2 separate regions of the Homo sapiens genome follow, and region 2 is linked to region 1. The links come from fine-mapping of genetic effects on gene expression. A gene starts in region 1. The other region holds a variant in brackets. All regions are shown on one strand. Distances are between the middles of the regions.

What was found.
Region 2: its variant is fine-mapped to the expression of OAZ1 in whole blood (TOPMed, PIP 0.97).

What each region holds. Positions count from the first base shown.
Region 1 is chr19:2,264,750-2,273,070 of GRCh38, forward strand. OAZ1 (ornithine decarboxylase antizyme 1) reads left to right here and starts at 4,737. Exons shown (of 5, transcript NM_004152.3): 1 at 4,737-4,995; 2 at 6,636-6,781; 3 at 7,033-7,205; 4 at 7,986-8,071; 5 at 8,223-8,321. The coding sequence starts at 4,850. LOC105372240 (a long non-coding RNA gene) reads right to left here and starts at 4,504. Exons shown (of 2, transcript XR_936242.3): 1 at 4,353-4,504; 2 at 3,744-4,123. RefSeq lists enhancers at 1,771-1,940, 4,436-5,050, 7,788-7,847, 7,858-7,917 and silencers at 4,304-4,793, 5,759-5,818, 6,029-6,228, 6,239-6,578, 8,118-8,267.
Region 2 is chr19:2,362,537-2,370,857 of GRCh38, forward strand. All of the region lies in intron 1 of TMPRSS9 (transmembrane serine protease 9), which reads left to right. Among named protein-coding and RNA genes, the nearest start is that of TMPRSS9, 6.4 kb to the left of the region's middle. The variant G/A (reference allele first, on the strand shown) is at 4,178.

The sequences.
Region 1 (8,321 bases):
TTCTTTTTTTTTTTTTTTTTTGAGATGGAGCCTCTCTCTGTCACCCAGGCTGGAGTGCAGTGACGCGATCTCGGCTCACTGCAAGCTTCGCCTCCTGGGTTCACACCATTCTCCTGCCTCAGCCTCCCGAGTAGCTGGGACTACAGGCACCCACCACCGCACCCGGCTAATTTTTGCTGTATTTTTAGTAGAGACGGGGTTTCACCGTGTTAGCCAGGATGGTCTCGATCTCCTGACCTCGTGATCCGCCTGCCTTGGCCTCTCAAAGTGCTGGGATTACAGGCGTGAGCCACCACGCTTGGCCATTTTCCTGCTTGCTTTCATTTTTTTTTGAGACAGTGTCTTGCTCTGTCCCCCAGGCTGGAGTGCAGTGGTGTGATCACAGCTCACTGCAGCCTTGACCTCCTGGGCTCAAGTGATCCTCTTGGTTCAGCCTCCCAAGTAGCTGGGATCACAGATGCCCACCCAATCCCAGCTAATTAAAATTTTTTTAATTTTTTAAAATTTCTAGAAGTTTTTAAAATTCTCAACAAAGTGAGAACCTAGAGATAGGGTCTTGCTATGTTGGCCAGGCTGGTCTGCAACTCCTGGGCTCAAGCGATCTTCTTGCTTCAGCCTCCCAAAGTGCTGGGATTACAGGCGTGAGCCACTGTGCGCGGCCCCAATCCTTCTTTATTTTTACCTGTTTACATTTTATTTTATTTAACTCATTATTATAATTCTTTTAGAGACAAGGTCTCCCTCTGTCACCCAGGCTGCAGTGCAGTTGAGAGACCATAGTTCACTGCAGCCTTGACCTTCCTGGCTCAGGGGATCCTCCTGCCTCAGCCGCTGGAGTAGCTGGAACTACAGGTGTGCACCACCATGTCCCTAATTTTTAAATTTGCTGCAGAGATGGGGTCTGGCTATGTAGCCCTGGCTGGTCTTGAACTCCTGAGCTCAAGCGATCCTCTTGCCTCTGCCTCCCAAAGTGCACACCGGGCCCACATACCCTCTTTTAAATCAGAGTCAGCCGGGTGCGGTGGCTCACGCCTGTAATCCCAGCACTTTGGAAGGGTGAGATGGGTGGATCACCTGAGTTCAGGAGTTCGAGACCAGCCTGACCAATATGGTGAAATCCCGTCTCTACTAAAAATACCAAAATTAACTGGGCCTGGTGGCGTGAGCCTGTAATTCCCAACTACTTGGGAGGCCGAGGCAGGAGAATCACTTGAACCTGGGAAGGGGAGGTTGCAGTGAGCCGCCGAGATCATGACCCTGAACTCCAGCCTGGTGACAAAGTGAGACTCTGTCTCAAAAACCAAACAGCCAGGTGCGGTGGCACACCTGTAATCCCAGCACTTTGGGAGGCACGTAGATCATGAAGTCAGGAGTTTGAGACCGTCCTGGCCAATATGGTGAAACCCTGTCTCCACTAAACACAAAAATTAGCCGGGAATGGTGGTGCACGCCTGTAGTCCCAGCTTCTCGGGAGGCTGAGGCAGGAGAATCGCTTGAACCCTGTAGGTGGAGGTTGCAGTGAGCCAAGGTTACGCCACTGCACTCCAGCCTGGGCTACAGGTGAGACTCTGTCTCAAAAAAAAAAAAAAAAAATCAGTCCATCAATCAATCAATCAGAGTCATACTCTCTGCGTCCTCTGCCAGCAGCCGTATCCCCTCAACCTTGATTTCAGAAGAAAACCCAGGCATGGGCCCTCTATCCTTGACCACCCCACATCCTCTGCTGTCCCTTTCAGACAGTTCAAGCCTCACCACCTCCAGAGAAAGATATGCCTCTTTCTCTCCCTGCTGTCCGGGAGGCCCCTCACCAGTCACAGACTCCCCAGCTCCCAGCAAAGCACCTCCCACCCTGGGGAGTTTCTGGGGAACCCGGCCAGGTGGGCCAGCAGGGCGCAGTTGCTGATCCTAGCGCTCATCCCACGTGGCCTGGCCAGTGTGGGGGTGGCCCTTCTAGAAGCCTCACAGCATTGGCAGGCGGCCATCAGAGGCAGGCAGGAGGAGGAAGTGAGAGCTGCTGCAGTCAGGATGGAGGGATGGGGCTCCCTGGTCGTGGCTGTTCTGGAAATCGCACCGGTGACCTGTTCATTTCGAGCAGGCTCTTGCCTCTGTTCCCAGAGGAGGTCCTCAACTTAGGGGCGTCATTCTGCCCCCAAGGGACATTGGATGATGTTTGGGACATTTCTGGTTGTCATGACTTGGAGTGCTCCTGGCATGGAGTGGGTGGAGGCCAGGGACGCTGCTCAGTACCCTGCAGTGCCCAGGACGCTGCAGTCCAGCCTGGCAACAGAGCGAGACTCCGTCTCAAAAAACAAAAAAACAAAAAAAAAAGCAATCCACACCCTGAGTGGGGAAGGAGAGAGGAGAAGCATCCCAGGAGCTGGGGCCCTCCTGGTTCATACCATTTGCCCAGGATGCCCCACCCCAGAGAACAATCCAAGCCCAATGTCCACGGGTCCGAGGGAGGAGACCCTGAGTTAATTATTTGAAACAGAGTCTGTTCTCTGCTCACACCAGACACCAGAATAAACTCCTTTTTTTTGAGATGGAGTCTCGCTCTGTAGCCCAGGCTGGAGTGTAGTGGTGCAATCTTGGCTCACTGCAACCTCCACCTCCCGGGTGCCAGTTCAAGCAATTCTCCTGCCTCAGCCCCCTGAGTAGCTGGGATTACAGGCACGCGCCACCATGCCCAGCTAATTTTTGTATTTTTAGTAGAGACGGGGTTTCACCATGTTGGCCAGACTGGTCTTGCACTCCTGACCTCGTGATCCACCCGCCTCGGCCTCCCAAAGTGCTGGGATTACAGGCGTGAGCCACCGTGCCCAGCCTCAGGATAAACTCCTAATGGGGCAAACGGTATAAACCAGGAGGCCCCCAGCTCCTGGGATGCTTCTCCTCTCTCCTTCCCCACTCAGGGTGTGGATTGCTTTTTTTTTGTTTTTTTTGTGACAGAGTCTCGCTCTGTCACCAGGCTGGAGTGCAGCGGCGCCATCTCAGCTCACTGCAACCTCTGCCTCAAGGTGTGGATTTCAACGTGCGCAGTCTCCTGGGACCTCAGCAGGGCAGAGGATCATGGGATGCAGAGTCTCTTGGGGGGGTCCGTGGAATCCCCTAACTCGGGAGTCTCACCCAGGGTGATTCTGCCCCCGCCAAGGGACACTGGGTGATGTCTGCGGATACTTGTGGTTGTCACAACTGGGGGTGCTCAAGGCATGGAGTGGGTGGAGGCCAGGGACGCTGCTCAGCGCCCTGCAGTGCCCAGGGCGGCCCCAAATGTCAACCGCAGGAGTTAATTTCTGCCTCAACACCTGAATAGCGAATGCTCGTAGCAGAGATGCAACAACAGCCTTCTGGTGCAGTACGAAATCTCGAAAGACAGGCAGGCGCGGTGGCTCACGCCTGTTAATCCCCAAACTTTGGGAGGTCGAGGCAGGCGGATCACCTGAGGTCAGGAGTTCCAGACCAGCCTTGCCAACATGGTGAAACCCCATCTCTACTAAAAATACAAAAATTAGCCGGGCGTGGTGGCGGGCACCTGTAATCCCAGCTCCTCAGGAGGCTGAAGCAGGAGAATCGCTTGAACCTGGGAGGCGGAGGTTGCAGCGAGCCGAGATTGCGCCACTGCACTCCAGCCTGGGTGACAGCCAGGCCCGGTCGCAAACAAAACAAAATTAAAACCATGAAAGGAATCAGGATTTGCCAGGAGTAGCATTTTTGCTTGGTAAGAACAAAATTTTGTTTATACATGAAATAAAAAATATTTTATTAAACCTCACTGCAAAGTGGCAACTTTTTGCTAAATTCATAATTTAGTCTACACACAAGCTATGTACCCGTATGTGACTGCCAAGAGTTATATCTTTGCTTATTAAAAGCAAAGTGCAGTTCATACCTGAGATTTTTTTTCTGGATTTAACCAGGAGGGGAAATATTTTTGCTAGGTAAGTCCACATTTTACCTCACAGGCGAAACAGTTTACCGAACTTGACCACCAAAGAAATCGTTTTTTCCTTGGGAGATCCACATTTTAGTTCATACATGAGATGTGTTTCTGAATTTTAACTGCCAGGAGTAGTGTTTTTCCTTAGGGTAAGTTTCAGTTTCCACAGGAAAAATCTGAATTTATCTGCAAGGAGTAAAATTTTTGCTTAAGTCCAAATTGTACACGAAATATTTTACTAAATTTGAATATCTTTAACATTGGAAGTTCTTTTTTTTTAAACACTGGAAGCATTTTAAGAACTGCAAGACCAAATTTAAAAAAATAAAACCAGTAATATCATCGATGATTACCAGGTGTTACTGGAAATAATTCTGGCGCGGTTGGACAACCCCCCAAGCACCCGGGGGCCTACCCAGGGGAGGGGTCCCGCTGCGTGAAGGGACCCTAGGGAGGGCGACGTGGACCACGACAGACAAACGGGCACTCGAAGACCCCCGAAAATCGGCCCCAGCGAGCCGCCCCCGCCCCCAAGGCACGATTGTGGGGGCGGGGACGGCTCGGGGCGCGCGCAGCGCGTACCCGGCGCCACGGCAGCCCCGCCCCCAGAAGGACGCGCGCAGGAGGGGGCGTGGCCCGAGGCTCACCAACCAATCTCCAGAGAGCCTCTTCCTTTCCCTTTCCCTTTCACCAATCAGGCGCTGGGAGGGGCGGGCGCGACTTTTTTTCCCGGCGGCCCCGCGGCTCTGCCCCTCGTGCGGTCGCGTTCCCGGCGGCGCGGGGGGCGTGGCCTGGGCGCAGCATCTATAAAGGCGGGCGGCGGCAGAGGCGCCATTTTGCGAACGGCGAGCAGCGGCGGCGGCGCGGAGAGACGCAGCGGAGGTTTTCCTGGTTTCGGACCCCAGCGGCCGGATGGTGAAATCCTCCCTGCAGCGGATCCTCAATAGCCACTGCTTCGCCAGAGAGAAGGAAGGGGATAAACCCAGCGCCACCATCCACGCCAGCCGCACCATGCCGCTCCTAAGCCTGCACAGCCGCGGCGGCAGCAGCAGTGAGAGGTAAGTGCCCCGCCCCCGTCCGAAGCTTCCAGAAGCGCCGGCCGCGCAGGCCTGCGGGGGGCCGTCCTCGGGGCGCCAGATAGGTCCCCGGCGCGCGAGATCCGCCCCTTTGTCAAGGCCAGAATCGCGCCGGGGACGAGGTAGGCGCAGGGCGGGCCTGGAGGTCCCCCCCGGCCTTAGCAGTGCTCTCGGGGGAGTCGGGTTTGGGGGGCAAGGGTGCGGAGTTGGATTTGGGGGGCACCGTCCGGGGCGCCTGATTTGCGGGAGGGGCATGGGTCGGAGGTCGGATTTGGGCGCAGGACGGGGAGTCGGGGGAGGCGTGTGTCTTTTGCGGGGTTCGCGGGATGGGACTCGGCTTCGGAGGAGGGGAGAGGCTTCTGGTCGAGGGTTGGATTTGCGGGGCGCAGACTGGGAATTCGGTTTGGAGGAAGGGTGTGCGGTCGGGTCGGATTTGGGAGGCGCAGGATGGGGCAATCTGGTTGGGGGCGGGGTCGGCCTTGGGGGGCTGGTCCGCGGACAGGCAGGGCCCGCGGGGCTGGTGAATCTGCACTTTTCGGTCCCGGCCGTCGAGCGTGCGCTGCGGGAGCGGGGAGCGCTTTGCGGTGGACGAGCTCCCGCGGGTCCCTGTTGCCTCGATGTGGCCCCTGCACGCGACGGACCTCGTGGGCCCCGTTTTTCGCCCCTGAGCGAGTCGGTCTGGATGGCCCGGGACGCGCCGGGCGAGGCCGCGCACGTAGACGGCACCCAGGGCTTCTCCGCGGGGGCCGCCGGGGAGCTGGGGGTGGCGCACTCCGACAGCCCGGCAGCGCCCTGGGAAGACCCCCGCCGCTTCCCGGGAAGACGCGTCCCGCTTCCGGGGGCGCGGGTGCCAGCTGCGGTTGTGGGGGAGCCCGCGGGGTCTCGGTCGAGCTTTCCCGACTGCGTCCCCCGAGGTGGGCGTCGCTCAGCCCCGGATCGGGAGGTTGGGCCGCGGTGCTGGCGGTGCCGCGGTTTGGGGGCCGTGCAAAATGGAGGCAACTTTGGGGCCTGTTTACCCTGCGCAGCAAATGGCTGCTGGCGCTGCCGGCTGCGCGATTGTGAAAATCTCCCCCGGGGCGCGAGGCCGCGTCTGCCTGGATGACGCAACCGGGAGGGCCCGGGCCTGGAGCGGGGGCGGGGGGGCGGGCGGCCGGGAGCCGGAGCGGGGCGCGTCCTCCATGAGGTCAGGCTAGGCCCGCCCGGTCTTCGCGGGGACAAGCAAGAGTCCCAGATTTTGGCCGTAGTGCAGGGTGGAAAGGGGAAGCCGCGACAGAACTGAAAAGGGGAAGCGCTGGCTGTCTTGGTGGCCGGGGGGTGAGGCTCTGCCCCGGCGGGGCTGCGTGAGGGGAAGGGGCCCCCCGCCCTGGGAAGGTTGGGCTGTCCTGGGCGGCGCCGCCCGAGGAGTCGGGGCTCAGTGACTGCTGCCCTTGTAGGTGCTTGGGGCAGGCGTTGGAGCTGCCTTCGGGAAGCCTCGGGGGTGTGGGACCGGGTGGGCCCCTGCCTGGGCGGGGCGGGGTCTTTTGGCCGAGGCAGGGGTGGGGATGTGCTGAAGGCCGCCCGGACGCCCTGGAGGGGTCTCCGCCCGGAGCCTGGCGCTGCCTCGTGACCTGCATCATCTTCAGTTCCAGGGTCTCCCTCCACTGCTGTAGTAACCCGGGTCCGGGGCCTCGGTGGTGCTCCTGATGCCCCTCACCCACCCCTGAAGATCCCAGGTGGGCGAGGGAATAGTCAGAGGGATCACAATCTTTCAGCTAACTTATTCTACTCCGTGAGTATGGGGCCGGGCCTGCTGGGGCTGCTCTGGGGCCACAGGTACTTTCTTGTGCACCTTGCTGCCCGTACCTGTGATTGAATGTAATCGTGGGAACCCTGAGTTTCATCAGAGCCGGCGCACAGTCTCCTGCAGCCCAGGCGTTGCCTGAGCTCAACACGGCCTAGGCCCAAGCTTTAGCGCTGCCGGGTTCTTGGAGTCCTGTGGGGTGAGTCAGGGTTCTGAATTGGGCTGCACCCCCTGGACAGGATGATCGGCTGAATGTAACAGAGGAACTAACGTCCAACGACAAGACGAGGATTCTCAACGTCCAGTCCAGGCTCACAGACGCCAAACGCATTAACTGGCGAACAGTGCTGAGTGGCGGCAGCCTCTACATCGAGATCCCGGGCGGCGCGCTGCCCGAGGGGAGCAAGGACAGGTGAGGGGCAAGGACAGGCAGGGAGTGCTCACCCAGGGGAGCAGGGACCAGGTGAGGGGCAAGGACAGGCGGGGAGTGCTCACCCAGGGGAGCAGGGACCAGGTGCGGGTTGCTGCCCAAGGGGTGCAGGGACAGATGAGGGAGGGCACTGCCTTCAGGCAGCACATATGGGGGCCACCATCGCTTTGTTGGTGGGGACAGGGTCCCCCCTTTTTTTTTTTTTTGAGATGGAGTCTTGCTTTTGTTGCCCAGGCTGGAGTGCAGTGGCATGATCTTGGCTCACTGCAACCTCTGCCTTCCGGGTTCAAGCGATTCTCCTGCCTCAGCCTCCCGAGTAGCTGGGCTTACAGGCGCCCGCCACCGATGCCCAGCTAATTTTTGTGTTTTTAGTAGAGACGAGGTTTCGCTATGTTGGCCAGGCTGGTCTTGAACTCCTGACCTCGTGATCCGCCCACCTCGGCCTCCCAAAGTGCTGGGATTACAGGCGTGAGCTACCGCTCCCGGCCTGGGGTCCCTTTTTAAAAAGTGCACTCCAAATTCGTACCCTGGGATTCTACCCTCCAAGGGATGCCAGGCAGTGTCAGAGCTTTTCTGTCATGGGGCATGCACGTGGGTGGGTGCAGCGGTGCTGCTCAACACTGTGGTGTCAGGACGGCCCCACCCAGAGGACGATCTGGGCCCCAGGGGGACCCTGGAGTAGAGCGGGCCTCAGGGTAGCTGCTAAGGCCCAGGAGGTAGGCAGGTGGGTCGGGCCAGCCGAGACGCTGACACTCGCTGCAGCTTTGCAGTTCTCCTGGAGTTCGCTGAGGAGCAGCTGCGAGCCGACCATGTCTTCATTTGCTTCCACAAGAACCGCGAGGACAGAGGTAGGTGACCCGTATCGCCTGCAGTAGGGTGCGTGGGGGTGCCTGCGCCGCCCCTTCATTCTCAGCCCGCAGGCACGGTCTCCCTGCGGGGGTGGGGGGTGCGGGCGGGGGGTTCTGGTCGGCAGGGGTTCTGACGGCTTCTCCCCCGCAGCCGCCTTGCTCCGAACCTTCAGCTTTTTGGGCTTTGAGATTGTGAGACCGGGGCATCCCCTTGTCCCCAAGAGACCCGACGCTTGCTTCATGGCCTACA
Region 2 (8,321 bases), 98 kb after region 1:
TTTGTGGATGGCTTTGTGTGGTTGTGTATGGTTGTATAATTGTGTTTGTGTGTGATTGCATATGATTGTGGCAATATGTGTAATCGTGTCTGTATGACTGTGTATGGTGGAGTTGTGATTGTATCAGTGTATGACTATATGTGTGAAGTTGTGTTTAGCTGTATGGTCATTGTATGTGAGATTTGTGGAGTTGTAACGTGGTTGTGTGTGTACTTGCATGATGAGATTGTGTATAATTTGTGGATGGTGGAGTGAGGTTGTGTGTGGTTGTATGTGGTTGTGTGAGGTGTGTTTTGTGAGGGTGTGTGTGGTTGTGGTGTGTGGTTGTGTGAGGTTGTAATGTGTGGTTGTGTTTGGTTGTGTGAGGTTGTGTGTGGTAATGTGTTGTGTGTGGTTGTGTGTTGTGTGTGTGTTGTGTGAGGTTGTGGTTGTGTGTGCAAATCCCCTCTTCCTAGTCTTCTCATCTGGGGCATGGGGATCAGGGTCCCAGCGCTCAGGCTGGCCTGACCGTGGGGTAATTGGGCCCTGCAGAGCCTCACGCCGCCTGCTTGTCCTGCCACGCGGAATGGGAGTCCGTGTGTGCCCCGCTGCCCACAGCGTGTGAACGTGAGTTGGGGACCATGTGGCCCACTGCGCGCTGGGTCCCGTCCCTAAAGAGCATTCTTGGACTGTCTAAAATTCCCTTTGCAGAATTTGGAATGTTTAGGGTGTAAAATACGGAGCTTGGAGAGTCCTTAGGCAAAAGGTGTTGGTGGCCGGTTGCCCAGGCTGGGGACTCTGTCCGCGGGGCGAGAGCTTGCAGGAACGCTGGAGCATCGGAGTTCAAACCCTGTTGTCACTGTGGTTGGTTAAGGGCTTTGCGGAGACGTGGAGGCATGGTAGATGGATCGCAGGTGAGGGCGGAATGAAGGCAAAGGCGTCCCTTCTCTGATGGCAGACACATGGGTGGAGATTTGAGGTAGGAGCAGTTGTGGGGGGGTGGGGGGACAGGCGAGAGTGTGGGAGGGAGTGAGGTCGCGTGATTCCCCGTGCATCTGTGCGTGCAACTGTGGGTGATGGAGCTGGTGCTTGGGGAGGCAGGACTGGACCCTGGGTGCCGACACTGGGGCAGGGTTTAGAGCTCCCGGCCCTGCGCCCCTCGGTCCCCCAGGCTCACCTGGCTTAGCTGGGGAGCAGGGTTCTCGGGGAGCATAACAGGGAAGCTGCCCAGCAATGTGGAGGAGTCACTAGAATTCCAAGAACTCTGTGTGTGAGTGTGTGTGTGTGTGCGTGCGCGCGTGTGTGTGTGAGAGAGAGAGAGAGAGTGAGAGTGGGAGGGAGGGAGGGAGGGAGAGGCAGAGAGAGCCTTAATCTCCTCCTCTGTAAATGGGCATGCTGATATTAGCTGGACCTGTCTCCTGTATACCCTGGGATTATTGGGAGGGCTGGATCAACTCTCATAAGCCTATGAGCCCTACACCAACAGGACGCTGTTGGTATAAGCACATCTCAGCCTCCCGGTAGTCCTGTAGACCCAGCACCTGTAGTCCCAGCTACTCAGGAGGCTGAGATGGGAGGATCGCTTGAGCCCGGGAGTTGGAGGCTGCAGTGAACTGTGATCACACCACTGCACTCCAGCCTGGGTGACGGAGTGAGACCCTGTCTCAAATAAATAAGTGAATGAATGAATGAATGAATGAATGAAAGACGCATAAATAGAAGAAATTTAGAAGCCCAAGAATGAAGCTGAGGCGAACCTTGGGGTTTTATTGAAGTTGATGGTTGACGCAGCCCTGCAGGCTGTTCTAAGCCATTGATGTTTCTGTGTGTTGCTCTGAAATGGATGCAGAGGATAACATATTCTGGGTGATCCACTCATAACTGCATAAGGCTTCCTTTGTTGTTGTTGTTTTGCAGAGATGGGATCTCACTATGTTGATCAGGCTGGTCTTGAATTCCTGGGCTCAAGGAATCCTCCCACCTTGGCCTCCCAAAGTGCTGAGATTACAGGCGGGAGCCACGGCACCCAGCCCTTTGTTGTTTTGTTTACACTTTACCTTTATGAAAAAAAAAATTGGGGGGGATAATTTTAGTTGTGAAGATGGTGCAGAGAGTCCCCGCACACCCACCTTCCACCCAGTGTCCCCTTGCGTTGACACCTTTGACCACAGAACAAAGAGCAAAACTGGGCCGGGAACGGTGGCTCACGCCTGTAATCCCAGCACTTTGGGAGGCTGAGGCGGGCCGATCATGAGGTCAGGAGATCGAGACCATCCTGGCTAACACGCTGAAACCCCATCTCTACTAAAAATACAAAAAAAATTAGCCGGGCCTGGTGGCGGGCGCCTGTAATCTCGGGAGGCTGAAGCAGGAGAATGGCGTGAACCCGGGAGGCAGAGCTTGCAGTGAGCCAGGATCGCGCCACTGCACTCCAGCCTGGGCGACGGAGCGAGACTCCATCTCAAAAAAAAAAAAAAGAGCAAAACTGACGCACGACTGTGGGTGCCACACTCTGTCTTCCCACCAATATTTCTGTTCTACGTTGCAATCCAGGATCCCACATTGCATTTAGGAGCTGTATTAATTTTAAATGATACAACTCATAAGTGATTGGAAGGTTATTTTTTAATCTCTGCGTTTTCCTCTGGGTCCCTTAGTATCACTCATGTTTATCGGCGTCTTCCCTCCCACACGATTACTGACTCCTTTCTCCTCTGTCCACATTATAAAGCTAAAAGAACACAAGATACCATTGCTGCAAATAGTTTTCTCACAAACACCTCTTCCCATGAAAGCCTAACAAAAAGACCATAGACAAAATGAAAAAAAAAAGGAGACCAAGCTTATTAAATTTCCTGTAGGCTTGCTGAGTGATTTATTTCATGATGTTGGGGCGATGGAGGAGGGGAGGATTTCCTGACTAGATTCAGGCCTGAGGACAGGGGACAGGAAGAAATAAGAGAGGCCATGGCGTAGACAACAGCTGTCTGTTCTATAAACGGGCTTTGGCTGCCGTGGGACCAAAGATGCGGAATCGAATGGGATGGACGTGTCCGAAAACTGTGATCATCTTGGATTAGGTGAAGGAAAAAACAAACAAACAAACAAAAAAAACAAAAAAACTACACAGACAGGTGGGCAAGACAGCTAAAGAGCCCAGACCGAGGCTGGGGGCATGATGGTGCAGGCTTGTAGTCCCAGCTATTTGGGAGGCTGAGGCAGGAGGATCACTTGAGCACAGGAAGTTGAGACCAGCTGGGCAACATAGCAAGACCCCATCTGTACAAAAACTAAAAAAATGAGCCAGGCATGGTGGTGTGCACCCATAGCCCCAACTATTTAGGAAGCTGAGGTGGGAGGATTGCTTCAACCCAGGAGTTGGAGGCTGCAGTGAGCTGTGATAACACCACTGCACTCCAGCCTGGGTGATAGAGTGAGATTCTGTCTCAAAATAAATAAATAAATAATTTTAAAAAAGAGATGGAGAAAGAGAAGAGAAGAAATTTAGAAGCTCAAGAATGAAGCTGAGGTGAACCTTTGGGTTTTATTGAAACTGCTTGGAAAAAAAGGGAACCCCCTGAATTTCTCCTTGGAGAGGTTGAACCATGGTTTTGAGCAACTAGAAAACATTGGCCATTAAAAGCAGAGAGTGAGACCCTGTCTCTACCAAAAATTTAAAAAATTAGCCGGGTGTGGTGGTGCACACCTGTAGTCCTAGCTACTCAGGCGGCCGAGGTGGGAGGATTGCTTGAGTCCAGGAGGTTGAGGCTTCAGTGAGCTGTGATAGCATCAGTGCACTCCAGCCTGGGTGACAGAGTGAAACCCTATCTCAAAAACCAAAAAAGTAAATAAGGAACACCAGACAGAAGAGCCCTGGGACCTGCCGTCCTGTGTATTAGTTTTTGGTTACTGCATAACAAATGTCTCTCAAATTTAGCCAATTAAAACAACAGACATTTATTCTGTCACAGTTTCTGTGGGCCAAGGATTTGGGAGTGATTTATCTGGGTGGTTCTGGCCCATGGTCTCTCATGAGGTTGCAGTTAAGACATGGGCCAGGGGCTGGGTGCGGTGGCTCACGCCTGTAATCCCAGCACTTTGGGAGGCTGAGGAGGGCAGATCACAAGGTCAGGAGATCAAGACCATCCTGGCTAACACGATGAAACCCCACCTCTACTAAAAATACAAAAAATTAGCC[G/A]GGCGTGGTGGCGGGCACCTGTAGTCCCAGCTACTCAGGAGGCGGAGGCAGGAGAATGGCGTGAACCCAGGAGGTGGAGCTTGCAGTGAGCCAAGATTGCGCCACTGCACTCCAGCCTGGGCGACAGAGCGAGACTCCATTTCAAAAAAAAAAAAAAAAAAAAGACATGGGCCAGGGCTGCCTCATCTGAAAGCTCGTCTGGGCCTGGAAGAGCCACTTCAAAGCTGGTGTCCTCATGTGGCTGTTGGTGGGAGGCCTCAGTTCCTCACCACATGGGAATCACCATAGTGCTGCTCGAGCATCCTGACAACATGGCTGCTTGCTTCCCCCAGGGCTGGTGATTCAAGGGAGAGAAAGAACAAAGCCATAGTGCTTCTATGATCTAACCTCAGAAGCCTAGATCCATTGCTTCTGGTATATTCTATTCATTACAAGTGAGTCAATAAGTCCAACACACACTCGGAGAGGGAAATTAGGCTCTGCTAGGTGAGGATAGCAAATAATTTTTGGAGATATTTAAAAACCACCACATCTATAACCTTGGGCAAGTTACCTAACTCTTCGGTGCCTCCAATTCATCTTTGGTCAGAATAGAACCAGTCTCATAGGAGAAATGTGGCAATAAATGAGATGATGACTGTAAATATTGTTTAATACAACACCTGTCACATAGAAAATGCTTATGTACTTTTTTTTTTCAAGATGGAGTCTTGCTCCATTGCCCAGGCTGGAGTGCAGTGGTGGAAACTTGGCTCCCTGCAACCTCTGCCTCCTGGGTTCAAGTGATTCTCCTGCCTCAGCCTCCCAAGTAGCTGGGATTACAGGTGTGCACCACCATGACTGGCTAATTTTTTTTTTTTTTTTTTTTGAGAGGGAGTCTTGCTCCGTCGCCCAGGCTAGAATTCAGTGGCACGATCTCAGCTCACTGCAAGTTCTGCCTCCCGGGTTGACACCATTCTCCTGCCTCAGCCTCCCAAGTAGCTGGGACTACAGTCACCTGCCACCATGCCTGGCTAATTTTTTGTATTTTTAGTAGAGATGGGGTTTCACTGTGTTAGCCAGGCTGGTCTTGAACTCTTGACCTCAGGTGATCCACCCACCTTGGCCTCCCAAAGTGCTGGGATTACAGGCATGAGCCACTGCACCCAGCCCATGACTGGCTAATTTTTGTATTTTTAGTAGAGACAGGGTTTTACCATGTTGGCCAGGCTGGTCTCGAACTCTGGATCTCAAGTGATCCACCTGCCTCAGCTTCCCAAAATGTTGGGATTATAGGCATGAGCCACCATGCCTGGCTTTATCCACTTACTTTTATTAAAGGTATATTTTTCAGTGTTACAGCTCTTGAGGAATGATGTGCCAGCTATAGTTATCAAATTGTAACTCTCTGGATTTGTGGGGCCGGAGAGGCAGAGGGAAATAACTTGCTCTTTCAGGAGGCATTAGGCTACGGAACGGAGAGACTGCACATGGCGGCTGCGTTTTTCCTGGCTCCCCTTTTCCAATGGTTAAGGGAAGACAAATGGGAATTAAGCAGTTCCAGGCTCTGCATGTGGCAGAAACCATCCTACCATCTACTCCCATGGGTGCAGTTTGCAAAATTTGAGAGACCAAAAAAAAAAAAAAAGCAGAGAATGTGAAGGGCACATTAGGGTATAGCTGAGGATGTCAGGCAGGAGACACAGCCTGTGCCTTTGAAGGCACTGAGGCTGGACCATGCTGTGCATGTTTGGGGATCGGCGAGGAGGCCAGTGAAGCTGGGGCTGAAGGAGGGAGGGGTTGGAGATGAGGACAGTTAGACCCGGTCGCTGTGGGGAGGTTTGGGCAGAGGTGGGATGTCACCTGACGCGGGTCTTAGCTGTCTCCCTGAGGCTTCCCGTTGAGAATAGACCCAGGGAGGGGAAGATGGAAGTGGCATTTTGTGAGCCTGGGCGATGCCCTGCTTAGACCAGGCTAGACATGGCGTAGGGGCCCAATTCTAGAGCTACCCTGCAGACGGTCTGACAACGTTTTTGGATGGACTGGGTTTGGGATGTGCCAGGGCATCAAGGATAAACCCAGTTTTTTTTTTTTTTTTTTTTTTTTTTTAAAGACAGAGTCTCACTCTGTCGCCCAGGCTGGAGCACAGTGGCGCAATCTCAGCTCACTGCAACCTCCGCCTCCTGGGCTCAAGCAATTCTCCTGCCTCAGCCTCCTGAGTAGCTGGGATTACAGGTGTACGCCACCATGCCCGGCTAATTCTTTTTTTTTTTTTTGAGACAGAGTTTTGCTCTCATTGTCCAGGCTGTAGTGCAAAGGTGTGATCTCGGCTCACTGTAACCTCCACCTCCCGGGTTCAAGTGATTCTCCTGCCTCAGCCTCCAGAGTAACTGGGATTACAGGCGCCCACCACCACACCCAGCTAATTTTGTATTTTTAGTACAGATGGGGTTTCACCATGTTGGCCATGCTGGTCTCAAACTCCTGACTTCAGGTGATCCACCCATCTCCCAAAGTGATGGGATTACAGGCGTGAGCCACTGTGCCCGGCCAAACCCAGGTTTTAAAAAAAATTTTTTTGTACCTGGGTGAGTACGAAAGTGGAGCTGCTGTCTGAGCTGAGAAGACTGTGGGAGGAGCAGGCATTTTTGTGAAGAGGAGACTGAGGAGGGATATGAGAGCTCAGTTTGGTCAGTGTCAAATTTAAGAAGCCTGTTAATGATTGTATTAGCTTTTGTTTGTTTAAGACAGGGTCTTGCTCTGTCACCCTCACCCAGGCTGCAGTGTAGTGGCTTGATCGCAGCTCACTGCAGCCTCAACCTCCTGGGCTCAAGTGATCTTCCTGCCTCAGCCTCCCAAGTAGCTGGGACTACAGGTGTGTGCTACCACCCTGGCTAATTTGTAATTTTTTTTTTTTTTTTTTTTTTTTAGAGATGGGATCTCATTATGTTGCCTACACTGATCTCAAAGTCCTGGGCTCAAGCGATCCTCCTGCCACAGCCTCCAAAAGTGCTGGGATTACAGACCTGAGCCACTGCACCTGGCCTAGTTTTCTGCAAATTACCACAAATGTAGCAACTTGAAACACCTCCTGTTTACTGTCTCATGGTTTTGTGGTTTCTGTGGGTTGGGTGGCTGGGCATGGTTTGGCTGGATCCTCTGCTCAGGGTCTGACAAGACTGCAGTCAGAGTGTTGGCTGGGCTGTGGTCTCATCAGAAACTCAACTGGGGATGCCCAAATGCAGTGGCTCATGCCTGTAATCCCAGCACTTTGGGAGGCCAAGGCTGGCAGGTCACTTGAGGTCAGGAGTTCAAGACCAGCCTGGGCAATATAGCGAAACCCCTTCTCTACTGAAAATACAAAAATTAGCCGGGCATGATGGCGGGCACCAGTGTAATCCCAGCTACTTGGGAGGCTGAGGCAGGAAATCACGTGAACCCAGGAGGCAGAGATTGCATTGAGCTGATATTGTGCCACTGCACTCTAGCCTGGGTGACAAGAGACTTCATTTCAAAAAAATATATACACATCCTGGCTAACACGGTGAAACCCTGTCTCTACTAAAAATAACAAAAAAATTAGCCAGGCACAGTGGCGGGAGCCTGTAGTCCCAGATACTCAGGAGGCTGAGGCAGGAGAATGGTGTGAACCTGGGAGGTGGAGCTTGCAGTGAGCCAAGATCACGCCACTGCACTCCAGCCTGGGTGATAGAGTGAGACTCTGTCTCAAAAAAAAAAAAAAAAAAAAAGTGGGTAGGTTGGCCAGATGTCCCAGGTTGCAGGCTACACCATGCCTGGCTCATTATTTTTATTTTTTGTGGAGATGGGGGTCTCGCTATGTTCCTCAGGCTGGTCTCAACCCCTGGCCTCAAGTGATCCTCCCTCCTTGGCCTCCCAAGGTGCTGGGATTACAGGCGTGAGCCACCACGCCCAGCCAGAAACTTGGGTTTAAAATGGACTTTGCATTATAATGAGATGGGTAATTCACCCAGGATGAATCCAGCCTTCAGCTTTTGCTTTCTTTTGCTTTTGCTTTCTCTCTCTGTCTCTCTTTATATATATATTGCCCAGACTGGACAACATTGCAAGACCTCGTCTCTACAAAAACTTAAAAAAAAAATTAACCCAGCGTGGTGGCATGCATTTGTAGTCCCATCTACTCGGG